3 separate regions of the Homo sapiens genome follow, and all the other regions are linked to region 2. Evidence: fine-mapped expression QTL. A gene starts in region 2. Each other region holds a variant in brackets. All regions are shown on one strand. Distances are from middle to middle. Region 1 overlaps SLC12A8 (solute carrier family 12 member 8). Region 2 holds the start of SLC12A8 (solute carrier family 12 member 8). Region 3 overlaps SLC12A8 (solute carrier family 12 member 8).

Region 1 (6,038 bases), 93 kb after region 2:
CTCCTGGGCTCAAGTGATCCTCCCACCACAGCCTCCCAAGTAGCTGGGATTATAGGTGTGCACCACCACACCTGGCTACTTTTTGCATTTTTAGTAGAGATGGAGTTTCACCATGTTAGTCAGGCTGGTCTCGAACTCCTGACCTCAGATGATCTGCCTGCCTCGGCCTCCCAAAATGCTGGGATTAAAGGTGTGAGCCATTACACCCAGCCTCAAGTGATCCTTCTGCCTTGGCCTCCCAAAGCGCTGGGATTACAGGCATGAACCACCACACCTGGCCCTTAAATCTGTTGCATTTTTAATTTTAATGATCATATTTTTAATTTCCAAAAGTTCTTTGTTGTTCTTGGATTTTTTTTCATAGCACCTTGTTTTATAGATAGAATATTCTTCTTGGATGTACCTGGAGCTACTAATTAGTGTTTTCTTCCAAATTCTCTCTGTATCCTGATTTATGTTTCTTCCAGCCTGGGTTGTTCTGTTTCTATTTATGCGTGTATTTGTTTATTTGTTGCTGGTTTTCATCACACATTGGGTGATCTTGGTTGTGGGCATGGATTTCCCCAGCTGTCGCATGGTTAGGTCTGTCTCCCTGCTGGGGCCCTACCTTGATGAGAAGTTTGTGAGTGCTGTTGATTCTTGAGCAGGGCTTTATTTGGGGTGCAAACGTCCAGCCCTGGTTTTCCTCAGTGTATTGAGATCTTGTAGAGAAGCATTCCGAGGCTTTCTTTCCTTCTCTTTTCCTCGGTATTATATTCTCCATTTTCTATGTTCTATGTTCCAGACATTCATGGGAACCTTTCATCTACTTAGGGTCCTCCTCCCAACTTCTCTTTGCTTATGGGAATTTATCTACTTTTCCCCTTTACTATGCTCTTAATAGGATCTTGGAGAGGAGGGAATGAGAGGAAAGAAAATGTGCCTAACAGGCCGTTAAAAACAAAAACAAAAACAACAACAACAAAACCTTAAAAGTTTTCACGTTTCAAAATGATCATTGTAGAAAATTGAGAAAATATAAACAGTCAAATAAAAATGACCTGTTCTTTTATCACCCAGAAATAACATTGTTAATGTTTTAAAACATGTTCCAGTTCCTTTTTCTATATATTTTTATAATAATGGGATCATACCATGTGTTCTGTTTTCTAATATGCGTCTTAAAACTAAGCAAAAGCTTCTAAACATCTTTCCATGTCACAACATATCCCTTACAATATTCTGAGACCTAGTATTTATTGAAAGCTATATCATCACTTATTTAACCAACCCTCTATTTTTAGACATTAGGTTGTTTCTAATTTCCACTATTCTAAACAAGCGTTTATAAACACGCTGGGCTAAATCTTCCCTCATAGCCTTGACTACCTACGATGGGTAAAGTCCTCATAGTGGAGTTGCTGGGTGACAGTATATGCACCCCATCCGCGGGCCAGCATTCAGGGTTCTCTCTGAAATACACCCCCCTACTTTCACTTTCTGGTTCCAAACTGTCACTTCACTGCACTTCGCTTGGATTCTGTGAAGCATTGTAGCAGAGGCATTAAGAGCATAATTTTCAGAGTCAGACAGACCAGGGTTGAATCTTAGCTTTGCTGCTTATTAAATGTGTGACCTTAGGCTGTTTTAATTAACCTCTTTGAACACTTTTCCATAAGATGAGGAAATAATTCTACCTTTCTGATGAGGTTGTTATGAGAATTAAACAGGATAAAAAAATGCATGTAAAGCACTTGACACAGGCCCAGGCAGTTTGAAAGTGTTCACAAATCATGGAGTTAGATTCATTCCCATCCCTAAGCCCATTCAAATCCCTCTTTCAAGGCCACATTCAAGATACAACCCCCTCCACGGGTCTTTCCTGACCAGGGCAGCCCATCACACTGAGTTGTTATGGCACTTGTGGGCTGGATCCTCATCCGATGTTCAGAACACCCTGTCTTGTTGCTTTCATATATTTGTTTGTATGGGAAGAGGCAACATCCCCACTTCACCATGCAGCACTGTGCTGTGGGTCCCTCATGGATTAATTCATTTTCATTAGTGTTCTTGCAGAAGAGAGGTGATGATGAAAAGGAGCTTGTGACTCCATGTCAGTGGCATCAGGATTGGTTTTTTTGGAGTTTATTTCAAGCCCTTTGGTAGCTCAGGGGCTTGGAGGATGGTACCTGACCCCGAGGACACAGGAAGCTCCCATGGAATCAGCAGGCAGCAGAGGCAGGGAAAGCTGCTGAGCAGGAGGCTGCCAGACCTTTGTAATGCTGAGCCTCTCCAGGGCATTGTCCCAGCTCAGCAGGCAGCGCAGGACCTCTGTGTGCCTTGCAAGCCGCTTTCCTCCCCCCTGGTTGCTTTGCGCTGAGCGGTAGGATGCTTTTGGAGCTGGGAGGGCTTTCCTCCTGAGCCTCCTCCAACCCACAAAGGTGCCTTTCACGCCACAGGGATGCCTCCCTAGTTGCCAGGGGAGATTGAAAAGCAGCCTATGCGCAGAGCTGCAGCTGGAGGGCTTGCGGTGGGACAGCTTCCAGGAGAGGGTCCCGCAGGAGAGGAAGGGGCAGCCCTGGGGAAGGCGATGCGTGGAGGAGGCTGCTCACCCCATTCCCCATCTGGGTGTCTTTCAGGAGTCATGGCCGGCTTCAACATGGGGGGCGACCTCAGGGAGCCTGCCGCCAGCATTCCCCTGGGCTCCCTGGCAGCTGTTGGCATCTCGTAAGTTCCCCTCATGGCAATCAGTCTGAGCTAGAGAGTGGGAGAGAAAACCCCAGGCAGAAGAGGGATTGCCCCTTTTGTTCTGAGAGTGCCCCGACTGTGACCAATCTATTTCATATTCCGATCCTTCTTTTAACACTCGGTGGGCTGGAAAATTCACGTCTGGTGGGTTCAGACACTGCCCTTTCATGCGCCCTGCCTGGGAATGCTGCCGAGGAGGAGTGTCGGGACCCAGATCACAGATCGAATCCTTTCTTTCCTTTCCTCGGCCTCCCGCCCCCGTCCCTCCCCCACCCCCATTTTGAACTTGGGGATTTTTTTAACCACCGAGTTTCCAGGATCACTGGAGGGAGCATAAAGATGAAGAGTTTTGCAATCAGACGAATTGGGGCTGCATCTCAGCTCTGCCGCTGATTGGCTGCATGACTCTGGACAATTTACTGAGTTCTCTGAGCCTCCATTTCCTTTCTTGTGAAATGGGGATAATGACACTGTATGTGCTTCCTAGATTGCGG[C/G]GGGGAGAGAAGGCACACAGTGGAAGCTCAGCACCCAGCTCTTCTTCTTCCCCCAGTGAGCCTCCCCTCCAGCTCCCCCAGGCCGTCAGGCCTCTGGGGTTTTAGTTCACACTGTGCCACCCACACAAGCAGGCTGGGTAACCTTGGGTCTATTTCTGACCTTTTAGAATATTGTTTCTCTCTGTACCACAGGAAGAAGCTTCTCTGCCCTTCATTGGGTAGGTGTGAAGAGGCAAAGAGATCAGAGACCAGAAACAATGACTTGAGAAGTTAAAAGGGCCTGTGTTATTCTAACCACAGTATTTAGAAAATATTAATGTATCTGTTTCACAAACACTGAATTTGTTCTTAGCTTACTGCAGTGAAACCATTGCTATCAGCCTGGCGTACAGCATCAGGGTATTTTGTGCAATAACATTGGGAAGAAAATGAAGACAACAGAGATAGAGTTGAGTGTTGGGAAGGAAATAAAAGAAAGAGGCTTCTGAATGAGGACCCTGTCTTGTTTCTGGCCCCAGCTGGGAGGTTCCAGGAGGAACCCTTGGCCCATCCTCTGATTACCCAGATGGGAATGAGGAGACCACAGGAACCTGGGTCTTGTTCAAGGTTACAGGGCATCTTGGGGACAGAGCCAGGCCTCTGCTCTCTGCCTTTTGACTTTAGTTTCCCTCTTTATTATCTGATCCAAAGATAACAGACCAGCAGGACTTAGAGGCCCGAAGGATCATCAGCTTGTTCTTTTGCTGGAGGAGGCTGGGGTGTGAGGCTGCGGGGCAACCCTGGCCTGAATCCTGGCAACCTAGAGGCAACTGGGCCTCCCACTTCCCTACTCGGAATGCCCTTTGTATGTTTTTCTTTTTTAATATAAGAAAGAGAAAAAAAACTGCTCACTTCAGCAGTACATACACTAAAATTAAAACAATACAGAGATTAGCATGGCCCATGTGCAAGGATGACATGCAAATTCGTGAAGTGTTCCATATTTTTATATATATTTAAAAGTAAAAAAAGAAACAAAACAATGGTACCCCTTTTTTGGTAAGAAATATGCCAGAAGAGAAATAGTACAAAAAGTGTCCTCCCAAGCCAGCTGGGGAAGCTTCATGACTGGCCTTTCTCTCATTCTGATACAAGTTCCCTTTGGAAACAGAAGGTTGAGTGAGGGAATTGGATGGGGCTGGGTGAGGTGAGTCGGGGGCAGCTCTGTTCTGCTCTTGGGTTTTGCAGGTGGTTTCTGTACATCATCTTCGTCTTCCTCCTGGGCGCCATCTGCACTCGAGAGGCCCTTCGCTATGACTTCCTGATAGCGGAAAAGGTGAGTGAGGCCTGCGCTACTCCAAGGGCTCAGTCTGCCGGAGTCATTTATTTGTTCTCACCAACAAATGGCCACCTTCCCCTTGCAGTACTGTCTGGGAATCCATATAGTCTTTTTAAAATTTAATTAATTTATTTTTTGAGACAGGGTCTCACTCTGTTGCCTAGGCTGGAGTGCAGTGTTGCAATCTCAGCCCACTGTAGCCTCAACCTTCCAGGCTCAAGCAATTCTCCTGTCTCAGACCGCCAGGTAGCTGGGACTACAGGGGCATGCCCTCATGCTGGGCTAATTTTTTTTTTAATTTTTTGGTAGAGATGAGGTCTCACCATGTTGCCCAGGCTGGTCTTAAACTCCTGGCCTCAAGTGATCCTCCCACCTTGACCTCCCAAAGTGCTGAGATTACAGGCGTGAGCCACCACGCCCAGCCTTCATATAGTCTCTAGCCCAGGACTGAAGTGTTGGGTTGTGGTGGGGAAGAGACATGATGGAAAAGGTACAGGCCCTGCTTAGGGATTTCTAGAAACAGATAATGATGCCCAGAGGGATTCACAAATATGAGGGGCTAGATAATGGGGACATCTCTTCCTGTCAAAAATCAGGACAGAAACAGAAGAATCTGCTCACCCCAAATTCCCAGTTAAGCAAGTGCCTCACTTTTGCTAATAGCTTCACCTTCCACAATGAATCAAATGTGCTGCTCAGAAGTGGCAAGTGGAGAAGGAGGCTGGACAGGCAGACGTGGAGGGAGCGGGCGGAAGCCCAGTGCCAGGGTGAGGGCCGAGGCCCTCCTTGTCCCTCAGGTCCTTGACCCCTTTGGCTTTCCTGAGAGTCTCAGACATTCTGGGTTGATTTGGCTGCAACATCTTTGTTTCTAGAGTCTGCACCCTGCCAGGAGAAGATTAATGAATTCCTGGCATTGGCTGGAGGTCATCTGACATCAAGGACATTTATTTGGCATCCTAGAAGCCACATGAATAAGATTTCCAGATATTTTTCTGGAAATCCCCAAAAACTCCCACCCTCCTTTAAGTTCTTGGAGAAAAAGTAGACCCTGAGATTCCCATCATTTTTCAGAGAAATGTAGTTGGTTAGGGAGTTTTTCTGTGAACTCCTGAGTATCACTGCTTATATTTTATGTATTTTAAATTTTAATATTTTAATTTTAACTTTTTAAAGACAGGGTCTCACTCTGTCACCCAGGCTAGAGTACAGTGACGTGAACATGGCTCATTACAGCCTCAACTTCCAGGGCTCAGGTGATTCTCCCACCTCAGCCTCCCAAGTAGCCAGGACTACAGACATGCACCACCACACCCAGCTATTTTTTTTTTTTTTTCAATTTTTTGTAGAGACGGGGTTTCGCCATGTTGCTCAGGCTGGTCTCAAACTCCTGGCTTTGAGTGATCCTCCCACCTCAGCCTTCCAAAGTGCTGGGATTACAGGCATGAGCCCCTATATTTTAGGATAGACTACCATTTTCTCTTGGTGTGAGGCTTTGCAAA
Region 2 (6,038 bases):
CTGTCTCAAAAAAAAAAAAAAAAAAAAAACAAATGTTAGCCAGGCTGGTCTCAAACTCCTGACCTCAGGTGATCCGCCGGCCTCAGCCTCTCAAAGTGCTAGGATTATAGGCGTGAGCCACTGCACCCAGCCCAGAAACACCTAATTATTTCTAATGCCAGCTGTCATAGTATGGCTGTACCGTTTATCTAAGCAGTCTTCTGTTGATGGACATTTAGGTTGTTCTCATTGTTTAAAGTATTACAAAGTAATGATGCAACAAACATGCTTTTCCTAGTTCATGTAGGGCAGTATCTTCAAAATGGCAATGTTTAAAGGATATGCAGGATACTATCTCTCTCTCTCTCTTTTTTTTTTTTTTTTTTGACAGAGTCTTACTCTGTCGCCCAGGCTGGAGTGCAGTGGCATGATCTCAGCTCACTGCAACCTCTACCTCCCAGGTTCAAGCAATTCTCCTGTTTCAGCCTCCCGAATCACAGGTGCCTACCATCACACCTGGCTAAATTTGGTATTTTTAGTAGAGACAGTTTTTCACCATGTTGGCCAGGCTGGTCTCGAACTCCTGACCTCAGATGATCCACCTGCCTCAGCCTCCCAAAACTCTGGGATTACAGGTGCAAGCCACCTCGCCCAGCCAGGATACTATTTTTCAACATGAGGTTTTTTGTTTTTGTTTTTGTTTTTTTGTTTTTTTAAGGTTAGTGTTATTGTTATAAGAAAAATCTACATTAAGCAGGATATATATATATTTTTCTTTGCAAAGGGCAGGTTTCTGTAGCCTTAACATGAAGAAAATAAACAACTATATTTGTTTCTGGGTTTAGAAGATGCTTATAAGCTTTGAAGGGAACTTCTCATTTATTTAGAAAATGACGAGTGACAGGAAGTAGGTGGTTATAAAGCGAGAGGTGGATTCCCCATTCTAAAGTTTTTAACTCAGGCTGATATGGAATTGAATGCAGATTCTTCAAAATTCATGTTGACACTTAGAGGGAGACTCATCGGAAGGTGACAGCAAACAGGAAACCAGCTTGAGGCAAAAAAAAAAAAAAAAGAGCAGTGTCATGTATGACCCACCAAAAGTGAATAAGAAAAATGACTCTGCTGATCATTCTGATGAATCTGTGGAAATACAGTCAGCCCTTCATATCTGTGGATTTGACCAAGGCAGGTCAAAAATATTTGGTTAAAAAAAAAAGCATGGTTGCAGCTGTACTGAGCATGTACAAAGTTTTCTTCTTGTCATTATTCCCTAAACAATACAGTATAACAACAATTTACATAGTTTTTTTTTTTTGTTTGATTGTTTGTTTGTTTTTTTTTTAAGACAGGATCTCACTCTGTCACTCAGGCTTTAATGTAGTGGTATGATCATGGCTCACTAGAGCCTCAACCTCCTGGGCTCAGGCAATCCTCCCACCTCAGCCTCCCAAGTAGGTGGGACTACAGGCATGCACCACCATGCCCAGCTAATTTTTAAAATTTCTTTTGTGGGGAAAAGAATAGGCTCTCACCGTGTTGCCCAAGCTGGTCTTGAATTCCTGGGCTCACGTGATCCTCTCACCTTGGCCTGGAGATTTGGAATTTTTGTAATTCCAAAGTGCTGGAATTACAGGTGTGAGCTACTGTGCCTGGCCTTGAATTAGGTATTATACGTAATCTGGAGATGACTTAAAGTATGTGGGAGGATGTGTGTAGGTTAAATGCAAATACTACATCACTTTATATCAGGGACTTAAGCATCTACGCATTTTGGTATTGGTCAGGGGGCCTGGAACTAATTTCCTGCAGATGCCAAGCGGTGACTGCATAATGGATTCCAGTAACGTGACTGTGTCAGCCTGTCCGCCCATTCATCCTTTGTTCACAGATGGTTAATCTGTAACTTTTGGGGGGTCTTTTTTTCTGGCAGAGATGGGTTATTAAAAATTTCTTTGCTGGGAATGAAATTCTGACACATGCTACAACATGGATGAACCTTGAGGACATTATGCTGAGTGAAGTAAGCCAGACACAAAAGGACAAGTATTGTATGATTCTACTTACATGAAATACACAAAATAGGTAAATCCATAGAGACGGGAAGTAGATGAGGGGAGTTACCTCTGAGGGTAGACGAAACGGGGAGTTAGTACTTAGTGGGTACAGAGTGTCTATTGGGGACGATGAAAGTTTTGGAAATAGCGATGATGGTTGGACAATATTGTGTGTGATTAATACCACTGAACTGTACAGTTAAAATGGTAAAAATGGCAAATATGATGTTCTATATCTTCACACGCGTCTTTGCTGGAGCAGAAGCGAGAGGTTAGGTTCTGTCAGTGTTCCCATGGCTTAGCCTTCCCTTTTGTTTTTAGAAGAACAACCTCTATTTTTAGGGATTTTCACACAAAGGCTTGTGGGCGTGGGAAGTTCTCCCAGCTGCCCTCCTGTTTCTCAGAAGCCCACATGGAAGCCTCTCAAATTATTTAAGGTTTAGGAAATATGCCAGATTGGGAATGGAGATAATTTAATCTCTCTGTATGTTAATTTAGGGTTCTTTTTTTCTGCAACATGAGGCCCTGGAAACCTTACTTCACCCCTAGGAAAGGCAGTTCTGGGTCTTGGTGAAGGGGGTAAGGGTAATTCACCCCTACACAGCATGCCCAGAGCGCTTTCCTGGCAAAAGCAGTTCCACGCCCTCAGAGTCTGGGGTCACCTGATCACGCAGCCAGGCACACACGGAGACCCCCGGTACCGGGGTCTCGGTCAGCTTGTCCAGATTCTTCTCCACATCTGCCCAGGGGGCTGCGGGTTTCCCTGCACTCCGGGCTTATCCCGGGCTTTCTCAGTCCTGCGTGCAGTGCTCACAGCCACTCCTCAGAGCCGCACAGGGTAGGCTCCTGTCCCTAGTCCCCTGGTCCCGGGGCTGGGCATTTCCGCTGGTTGCACTGTCGAGGGGGGAGAGGCAGTGGCTGGTCACTTCGAGCCTGTGGGCTTGCGGCCCCTACTCCCTGTTTTCCCCCAGCCCTGCCCCTACCCAGGTGAATGTTCTTGTCCAGGTAGGCGCGAAGGCCCGACCCTTGCGGAGGGAAAGCCTCTGCAGCGCCTCCTCGCCACCTGGGCCCGAGACTCCCGGTGCTGGCGTGGCAGGGGTGCCCCCGCCGGGACGGGACAGCTGGGACCCGCGCAGCCGAGCCGGGGCAGCCACGTGGCGGCGGGGCGGGGACCGGGCGGGCCGGGCGCTGGGAGCTGGCTGTCCCAGGAGCAGGTGAGGGCGGAAGGGCTGTGGGGGGTGGAGAGGGTGGTCTCGGGACAGTTCCTCTCCCCGGCCCGCAGTTAGGAGCCAGGCCTGGGGTCACCTTTGCCCCCACCTCCCCGCCCAGGTGGATCCTCTCCTACCGCCGGTCACCCGCGCGCCGGCACACGGGCCTGGCCCCAGTACTTGGGGTGCGGGTCCGCGTCTGCGTGGGGTGCCAAGGGGCCCGGGTCCCAGCGTGGCCCAAACGTGAGGGTAGGGGCTCCGCGGAGGAGCCAGGTGAATGTGGGCGGAGGCCTGCGGGGCGGCCTGCGGAGGCCGCGGGGCGGCGGGAAGGGCGAGCGGAGGCCTGGGGTCCCTTGCTCTGTGCGGCGCGGGCAGCCGGGGACACCCGGGTGCTCTGGCTCCCTACCTGTCACCCGGCTTTTGGCAGGACTGCAGCCCACCAAGTCCCCCAGCCTTCCCAGCTTCCCACTGGGCTAACCCTCCTCTCCCAACCCCCCACTCAGTGCTCCGGGCGCCTTCCCTCCTCGCCAGCGCTGGCTGCTGTCCTTAGTCGCCTTCTTCCCAGGAAGATCAGCTCTAACCCTCCCCCTCGCTCTCTTCCTCCCCCTTCCTCCTTCTACCAAAGGGTCCTGAGCCCCGTCTACCTTGCAGCACTGTGCTGGGGAGAGGCGCCACACAGATCAAGGGGACAAACTCCCTCCTCCCCTCAAGGAAAGCCAGGTCCAGCGCGAAGGGGAGGGTGCCTGGGGGTGGGTTGAGGAGCTGCCCTAGTCCTGTCCAGCCTTTTCTCACTCACCCTCTTCAATCTCCTACCCTTCTCCGGCCCTGCTCCAGAAGGGCCCCAAAACAGCCTCCTCATGGCCCCTCTCCCCTCTGCTCAGGGCGCAGCTACATTCACTCACCACCTGCAGCCAGGTCTAGTGCGTCATGATGCCCTCCTCCTGGAGAGAGGGGTTCACGAGGCACTTGAGGGTGGGAGAGGAGTGTGACTCTGTGTCCTCAAGGGCTGGGCAGCAGGGCAGCTGGCTCTGACCCTCACGTATTTAAGGAGCTCAGGGAAGGAGAGAGCTGGGAGTGCCTGAGGTTCTAGGGCAGCAAGGTTTGAGCACAGGTGGGCACTGAAGGACCAGCGGGATCTACCTGGGTACCAAAAAGGTAACCCGGCCAAGTTTCCAGATGAGGTAGACAAGGTTTCTTCCTCAGCCAGGGCCTCGCCTGGTAGTTTGAACAATTCTAGTAGAGAGAAAGGATGGACAACAAGGGGAGAGGAGAGGAGAAGCCAGCCTGACCAAGGATGCTGTTACCTTCCAGAGCAGTCTCCCTGTCCAGATCACCAGGATCCCTGCTTGCTGGAGAATGACCCAGATGTCCCAGGTGCAGGAGCTCTTCCATGAGGCAGCCCAGCAGGTAGGCTCAGGATGTGCCAGGGTCTGTGATGGAGGCCTGTGAGCACGGGGATCCCCAGACAGTGGGCTGGATGCAAACATTACAGCGCACCCTTTAGATGTAATTAACTCCAAAGTCTATTTTGGTCATCCAGTTCAATGAGAAAATATTATAGCCAAAATATTATAGCCATTATTAACTGTTCATATACAGAAAACCTTTGGCATTATTTGTGGTGGATTTTGAATCCTGGGATCCCCCACAACTCCAAACTCCATCCTGAGAGGTCTTCCACAGACAGTCACAGTGAGGACTCAGATAATATGAACTCATTTTAATTCTGAATCAAACCAATGTAAGAAGGTAAATTTATTTCTGAAAAAACTCTTATGTTCTGAAGCCAAAAGGATTTCTGAATGCCCTGGTGTTTGCTATTTTTTTTTCTTCTTTTTTCTTTATCTTCTCCCTGCTGATCATTAGTTACATGCATTCTGTAGATATGGAATTGAAGTGGCTCTACCCAGAAATGGAGAGCTGATCCCTTAAGAAATAATAATAATAATAAACCATACTAAAGTGTTTATCCAGAAACTATGTGCACCCAGGGTCTTTGCCATCCATGATCACTCAACATGAAGTTTTCACCATCCCTTGGGTTTCTTTCCTGCTTCTAGAGAGTGGCAGGAGGGTTTCCCAGCCTTGTAACAGGGGGACAAGCCCCATCAGAGGGGAGAGAATCAACAATGAACAAGAAACCCAGACAGAAAATGTGAGGCCCAGGAATTCCCAAAGGAGAGACAAATAAGACATTCTGAGATCTCCCCTGTGATGGCATCTGTTCCTCTCTCCCCTGTTTAAAACCTTCAGTGTCTCCTCATGTGCACCACTCAGGGCTCAAACTCTTCAGCCTCAGCCCTATACAGTCTGACCCCACCTGAGTCTCAAGTCGAGTTCCCCACATCTTCTTCTTCCTGCCACACCTTCCAGCTGAACCACACCATTCCCCAGAGCTTATATCTTTCCCTTGATCTTTGCTGATGCTTCTTATCAACAATTTGTCACTGAAACCTTCACCCAAGTATTTAAGTGGTATTTAAGTATTTAAATTGGTATTTAAGTGGACAGTAAATTTTAGTTGATTGATCACATGAACAAACAACAGAAAACCACAATGCAAGTTAAATTGTCATAAGTGCCCTAAGAGAGAGTTGATTTCTAAAATGTGATGGATACAATGACCTCTGTGTTGCCTCCTTCTCCCTTAATAGCTAAACATCGAAGGATTGGACATGGCCCAATGCCCAATTTTAAGGCCTTTGGTGTTCATGATTTAGAAATCCATCCTTTCTTTCTCTCTCCCTCCCCTGCACTGTCTTGTTAAGGTACCATTTCTTGATTGGATGATTCA
Region 3 (6,038 bases), 57 kb after region 2:
AAAGAAAAAGCTTAAGTTGTCTAAAGAGGATCTTATAATAGTTGGATACACTTATAATTAGAAAAGCCCACTGGGGGCCCAGGCACTGTGGCTCACACCTATAATCCCAGCACTTTGGGAGGCCGAGGTGGGCAGATCACTTGAGGTCAGGAGTTGGAGACCATCCTGGGCAACATGGTGAAACCCCGTCTCTACTAAAAATACAAAAATTAGCTGGGCGTGGTGGCACATGCCTGTAATTCCAGCTACTCGGGAGGCTGAGGCAGGAGAATTGCTTGAACCTGGGAGGCAGGAGCTGTAATGAGCCAAGATCGCGCCACTGCACTGCAGCCTGGGTGACAGAGCGAGACTCTGTCTCAAAAAAGAAAAAAAAAAAGGAAAAGCTAATTTGACATTGGGGCTTACTAGGAACAAATATAAGCAGAGAAATGGCCTACTTAGAAATGAAACCTTAGATTGAAACAAGAAAATGTATTTATTCCTGAAAAGATTTTCCACAGTGAGTTGTCAAGTTGTGTCTTGCTAACATTCGGTCCCTGATTCCTTCATTTCCGCCATCCTTCCTTGGCTCATGTGCCTCTTCATCTCTGTATTTCTTTGTCTCCTCCCCACCTAGATCTCCCTCTCTCCTCCACTCTAATCAGTTCACTGAAAAACTTTTCCTGAGTCCCACTATGTGCAGAACCAAAGCTAGAAATTGAGGATACACACAAGAATAAGGCACAGGCTCTCCCCTAACCAAACAATCACCATTTCCTGGGTCAGTATTTTAAAGGAAAATATGCAAGTTGCAGGTGGAGGAGAGTGGAAGAACCTTGACCTTGGGGTTTCTGAGATGTCTTCAAGGAGAGGGTGATGCGAGTGTACCCCAGAGGTCACACAAGTGTTCACCTGGTAGTAAACTGGGGATGGTGATCCCAAGGAACAGGAACAGCATATGTGAAGACTCAGCGCGCATGGAAGAGTTCAGAAAGTGCAGGAAGGTAGGTGTGCTGGAGCTGAGTGTGCTGGGACAGGGTTTGGGGACAGAGGGCCAGAAGGGTACAGAGCCTTTTCAGGTTCAAGAGAGAGTTCTTCCCAGTTCCCTGAGGTGATGGTGCTTCAAAGCGAGGAGGCAGAGGGAAGCTCAGGGAACTTTCAGCTTCTAGGGCTTCCAGGATTGGCTTGTATCACAGGTCTTGGTGAAAAGCAGAACAGTAGCTTGTCTCTGTTCAGATCACAGCCGTTATTTTTCACTTATGACAGGTTTATCGGAACATGGCCCCACTGAAAGTCAAGGAGCATCTGTATTTATAATTAGTGTATTTCCTTCCAGTATTCTTGCCTTGCATATTTGTATTCATATATGTGAGTAGATAGTACCTACTAAATTATAATTTTAACTTATTTTTATTAAGAACTATACATATTTAATTTAAAAATATATCTAAAAGCTATTTCCTTATAGCCTTTTTTTCATCCTTTTTCGTTTTAAAGCATAATTGAGCTCACATAGTATATAATATTTTTGAAGTTAAAACTAATGTAGCAACATTCAGAAGTCCCAGATGGAATGTACTATAAACAGAGGCTTGATGACATATCTTGAGAATTTTCTTAGTCTCTCTAGTTAGAAAAGCAAGCAAACAAACAAACAAAATAACCAGAAATAAGTTTAAAATTCAACATGCGTTTTAAAGATACGGAAATCATAAAAGCTGAGCAAAAGGTCAATAGGCTTTTCTTTGAAGCAGGGAAGGGGTTGAATCAGATTTGCTCTTTGGAGCCCTGCCTGGAGTTAGGGTAGGCACAAATGGGGAGGGACTGAGGCTGGGGCCCTTCAAACGTGGTTGCAATTGTCCAGTCTAGAGAAGACACAGCCTGGACTGATGCAGTCGAGGTGGGGTAGAGATGAAGACCAGATGCAGTTTGGGAGACAGTTTCGTGATCTCATTTTCTTGATTTGTTTGTACATGCCTCTTAATTGTTTCCATTCCCGCCCTTCTCATCCCACCTCTCATCCCATCTTTGGTCCACCACCGCCATCGGGAACATCCACATACTTGTTAAACACAAACAAAATTATTTTAACCAATGAGAACTTTGATTGATTTTTTGTCTCGTTAGTTTATAATCCAAAACAATGATGAAAACATTTAAAAGGGTCCAAGATCCTGCCATAAGTATTTACTTTTCTCGCGCCACTGGCTACATGAGTGGGTGCACACATAGACCCATGCATGATCACACACACTGATGGCCTGGCCCTGAGATACTGGAGACGAAGCAGCCGGCACCATGTCTGGCACATGAACTCAAACACTTCACTTCCTCTGGTGAACCTTGGCCAGCCCCATCCATGATTCAGTGACGAAATGCCTTCTCACTCTGAACTAAATTCATTTGCACGGTTTCTAGCGTGCTTTGTATTTTTAGTCCTTTTCCACACATGGCCTCTCCCATTGGATGGCACACTCCCTCATCACAGCACTACAGCTCAGCCACATGCCCCGTGAGAGCATGATGAGGCAGCCGGCTGGGGTCTCTGCCTGGCCCGGGGCCTGGATTATCTCTGTATGTGGCCACCATTTGCATGTGAAAATCACGTCTGGCTCACAAGTCTGTGACCCAAACAATAGTCTCTTTCACCCTGAGCATACGGTCTAGGGATGTGAAGGGAAATTTCCCTTGCTTCTCTGAGAATATGTGCCACTTTTCTGAAAAATTAAAAATAATTGGAGTTACGAAGTTGGGTTTTTTTTTTTTTTTTGGCAAGAGTAAGCAATAATGATTAAGAAAAGTGGTTCATCAACTGTTACCCTGCTCTTAGTCCTTTCAAACTTCCTTCTTTTTTTTTTTTTTTTTTTGAGACAGAGTCTCGCTGTGTCACCCAGGCTGGAGTGCAGTGGCGTGATCTTGGCTCACTGCAAGCTCCGCCTCCCAGGTTCATGCCATCCTCCTGTCTCAGCCTCCCGAGTAGCTGGGACTACAGCTACTTTTTTGTATTTTTAGTAGAGACAGGGTTTCACCGTGTTAGCCAGGATGGTCTCGATCTCCTGACCTTGTGATCCACCCGCCTCAGCCTTCCAAAGTGCTGGGATTACAGGCGTGAGCCACCGCGCCCGGCTCAAACTTATTTCTAATAAGCCATCAGAAAATTATGTCAGATGTCTACATCAATTCCTGCATCAGAATCTCACAGTGTCCTTATCAGACATTCTTTACCAAACAGCCTCGCCGAAATTAATACTTTTTGAAACACTGAGTATATTTCTGCTTGTAAGCAGAGAAGAAAGTAAGGTGGAATAATTTATTAAGATGAGAAAAAAGTCCTGGGTCAATTCACATTGCTGTACATTTCTTGAATTTAAGATTTGAAGGTGGTGCGGTGAGCAAGGGAAGTAACACAGTAGCTTCCACCCCGCCACCCACGGTTTCACTTTCCATGGTTTCCATTTCCCGTAGTCAACCACAGTCCGAAAATACTAAATGGAAAATACCAGAAACAAACAGTTCATACGTTTTAAATTGCC[C/T]GCCATTCTGAGTAGCATGATGAAATCTTGCACCGTCTCACCCGGGACATGAACCCTGCTTTGTCCAGTGTGGCCACACCGTACACACCGCCTGCCATCAGTCACTTAGTACCTGGCTTGGTTATCAGGTCAACTGTCAAGTAGCAGAGGGCTTGAGCTCGAGGCCAATAATAGCCAAGTGCTATGTCACGATGCCTGCATCATCCGCCTCACTTCTCGTCACGTAGGCGTTTTATCATCTTACATCATCACAAGAAGAAGGGTGCATACAGCATGGTAAGCTATTTTGAGAGAGAGACGTTCACATAACTTTTATTATAGTATATTGTTAGAGTTGTTCTATTTTATTATTAATTATTGTGGTTGATATCTTCTTGTGCCTAATTTATAAATTAAACTTTACCATAGGTATGCATATATAGGAAAAAACGTGGTGTATATAGGGTTAGGTACTATCCTTGGTTTCAGGCATCCCCTGGGGGTCATGGGATGTACCCCTAATGGATAAGGGAGGGGGGATACTGTAATAGCTAATGTTTATTGAGCATTCTGTTTGTGCCAGGTGCTATACTAAGCATTATACATCTCACTATATCCTATCTATGGAGTCCCTGTGTGTTATTGTCCCCATGATAAAGATGAGATAACTGATGTTCAGAGAGGTTAGATTGCCCAGCAGTTATCCAGCTGGTAAGCAATGGAGCCAGAATTTGAGCCCTGGCTTCTGACCTCAGGGTCCATGTCCTTAACCATCAAGCTCACATTGTTTCCAGCTGCTGGGGCCGCCTGCTCTTCACTGACTGAATTAGAAAACAAGCAGGACACATAAGTCCCATGTAGGGCATGGCATTGAAAATGCAGTTTGCGAAGCTGCTGACTAGTGAAGTGAAAGGGGACGGTAGTTAAAGTATTTTGCACTGGGAGACTTGAAGCCAGCATTCTCTCTACCACTGTCTGTGGGACCCTAGGCCAGCACCCCAATATCTGTGGGTCTTCAGTTTCCCCATAATAAAACTTGATTTTAAAATTCATCATCTGGCCGGGCATGGTGACTCATGCCTGCAGTCCCAGCACTTTGGGAGGCCAAGGTGGGTGGGTCACCTGAGGTCAGGAGTTCGAGACCAGCCTGGCCAACATGGTAAAACCCTGTCTCTACTAAAAATACAAAAATTAGCTGGGTGTGGTGTCACGCGCCTGTAACCCCAGCTAGTCCAGAGCTCAAGGCCAATAATAGCCAAGTGCTATGTCACGATGCCTGCGTCATCCGCCCCACATTGTCTCGTCACATAGGCATTTTATCATCTTACAGCATCACAAGATTCTCCTGGTGAGGCAGGAGAATCGCTTGAACCTGGGAGGTGGAGGTTGCAGTGAGCCAAGGTCACACCACTGCACTCCAGCCTGGATGAGACAGTGAGACTCCATCTCAAAAAATATATAAATAAATAAATAAATACATAAATTTCATTATCTCTTAGAAGTCAGTGGGCTGCCCAGCCAGGGGCAGAACTTAGTGCGACACTTGCCCAACTCCTCGTATTTGTCTTGTACTTCCCAGCATGGGAGATGTGTCCTAAATGAAGAAGCACAAGAACATGCTATTGAGAAGAGTCCCTCAATTGCGGCCATCCTTTGGTGTTTCTGAAAGTAACAAAACAAGGCATCAGATATAGCAGAAAGAAGCACTGGTGGTAGCTGAGAGAGTTTGATAGGCAGCTACAGAAAATCCCCATACCTTGGATGTTGATGGCACGCGGTGCTGAGTAGGAAATGCAGAGGTCATTGTTTTTCAGGCTGTAAAAACCTCAAGCACAGGAATCCCATATTATTGCCGTTTTATCCTGGCATCTTGGAAAGTACCGGGCACATGGTTGGCTCTCGGTTGCACTTTGCTGAGTGACTGACTGGGAAACACACCAGAGTGGATCAGCATCCAGTGAGGCAGATGGATGGACACAGTCCTAGGAAACGTAATCTGCGCAGCTTGTGAAAGTGTGATGAGAGTTGCAGGAGAATGGAGTTGATGGAACAGATTGTCAGAGCACTGTCTCCAAAGAAGAGGAGTGGCAGGGTGGACGGAGCGCCTGGCTGCACACACACCTGTTCCGCCTCCCTTTCTTTCTTCCTCCCATCCTCCCACCCTATAGGTAGTCATCAAAGCCTACGGGGTGCCAGGAGGTAGGCTTTGGGATACAGCGGAGAATAGGATAGCGATGGTCCCTGCCCTCATGAAACAGGGAATCCATGTCAGCAATATATGCTTTTCTGATTAATGCTATCAGAACACATGCTTCTTGTTAGCCGTGTGGCTGTGGGCAAGTCACCGAAACCCTTTGAGTTTGTCCATCTGTCTAATGGAAAGAAATACCCTCCTGGAAGAGTGTTTTTTAAAGGATTAGAAATAATATGTCCAAAGTAGTTATTTTTTCTTTGAGTTTGGGGGGAGGGGTGGTTCCTTCTCTCTCTCCCCCTGCCAACTGTTTTCTAGAAAATCAGCACTTACTGGATATTGTAGAGAATAATTTT

Evidence for each region. PIP is the estimated chance that this variant, and not a neighbour inherited with it, causes the effect.
Region 1: its variant is fine-mapped to the expression of SLC12A8 in testis (GTEx, PIP above 0.99). The same link has a PIP of 0.9 or more in thyroid.
Region 3: its variant is fine-mapped to the expression of SLC12A8 in whole blood (TOPMed, PIP above 0.99).

What each region holds. Positions count from the first base shown.
Region 1 is chr3:125,117,267-125,123,304 of GRCh38, reverse strand. SLC12A8 (solute carrier family 12 member 8) reads left to right here. Exons shown (of 14, transcript NM_024628.6): 7 at 2,619-2,706; 8 at 4,449-4,536. It also overlaps the pseudogene RNU6-230P. Among named protein-coding and RNA genes, the nearest start is that of MIR5092, 31 kb to the left of the region's middle. RefSeq lists enhancers at 1,365-1,584, 1,790-2,295, 2,296-2,802, 2,805-2,854. The variant C/G (reference allele first, on the strand shown) is at 3,222.
Region 2 is chr3:125,209,912-125,215,949 of GRCh38, reverse strand. It overlaps SLC12A8 (solute carrier family 12 member 8), which reads left to right and starts at 3,202. Exons shown (of 14, transcript NM_024628.6): 1 at 3,202-3,250; 2 at 4,556-4,651. The coding sequence starts at 4,601. RefSeq lists silencers at 3,121-3,270, 3,311-3,530, 3,541-3,590 and an enhancer at 3,482-4,081.
Region 3 is chr3:125,152,559-125,158,596 of GRCh38, reverse strand. The region is part of intron 5 of SLC12A8 (solute carrier family 12 member 8); the gene reads left to right. Among named protein-coding and RNA genes, the nearest start is that of MIR5092, 4.0 kb to the right of the region's middle. RefSeq lists a silencer at 3,668-3,717 and an enhancer at 3,953-4,454. The variant C/T (reference allele first, on the strand shown) is at 3,513.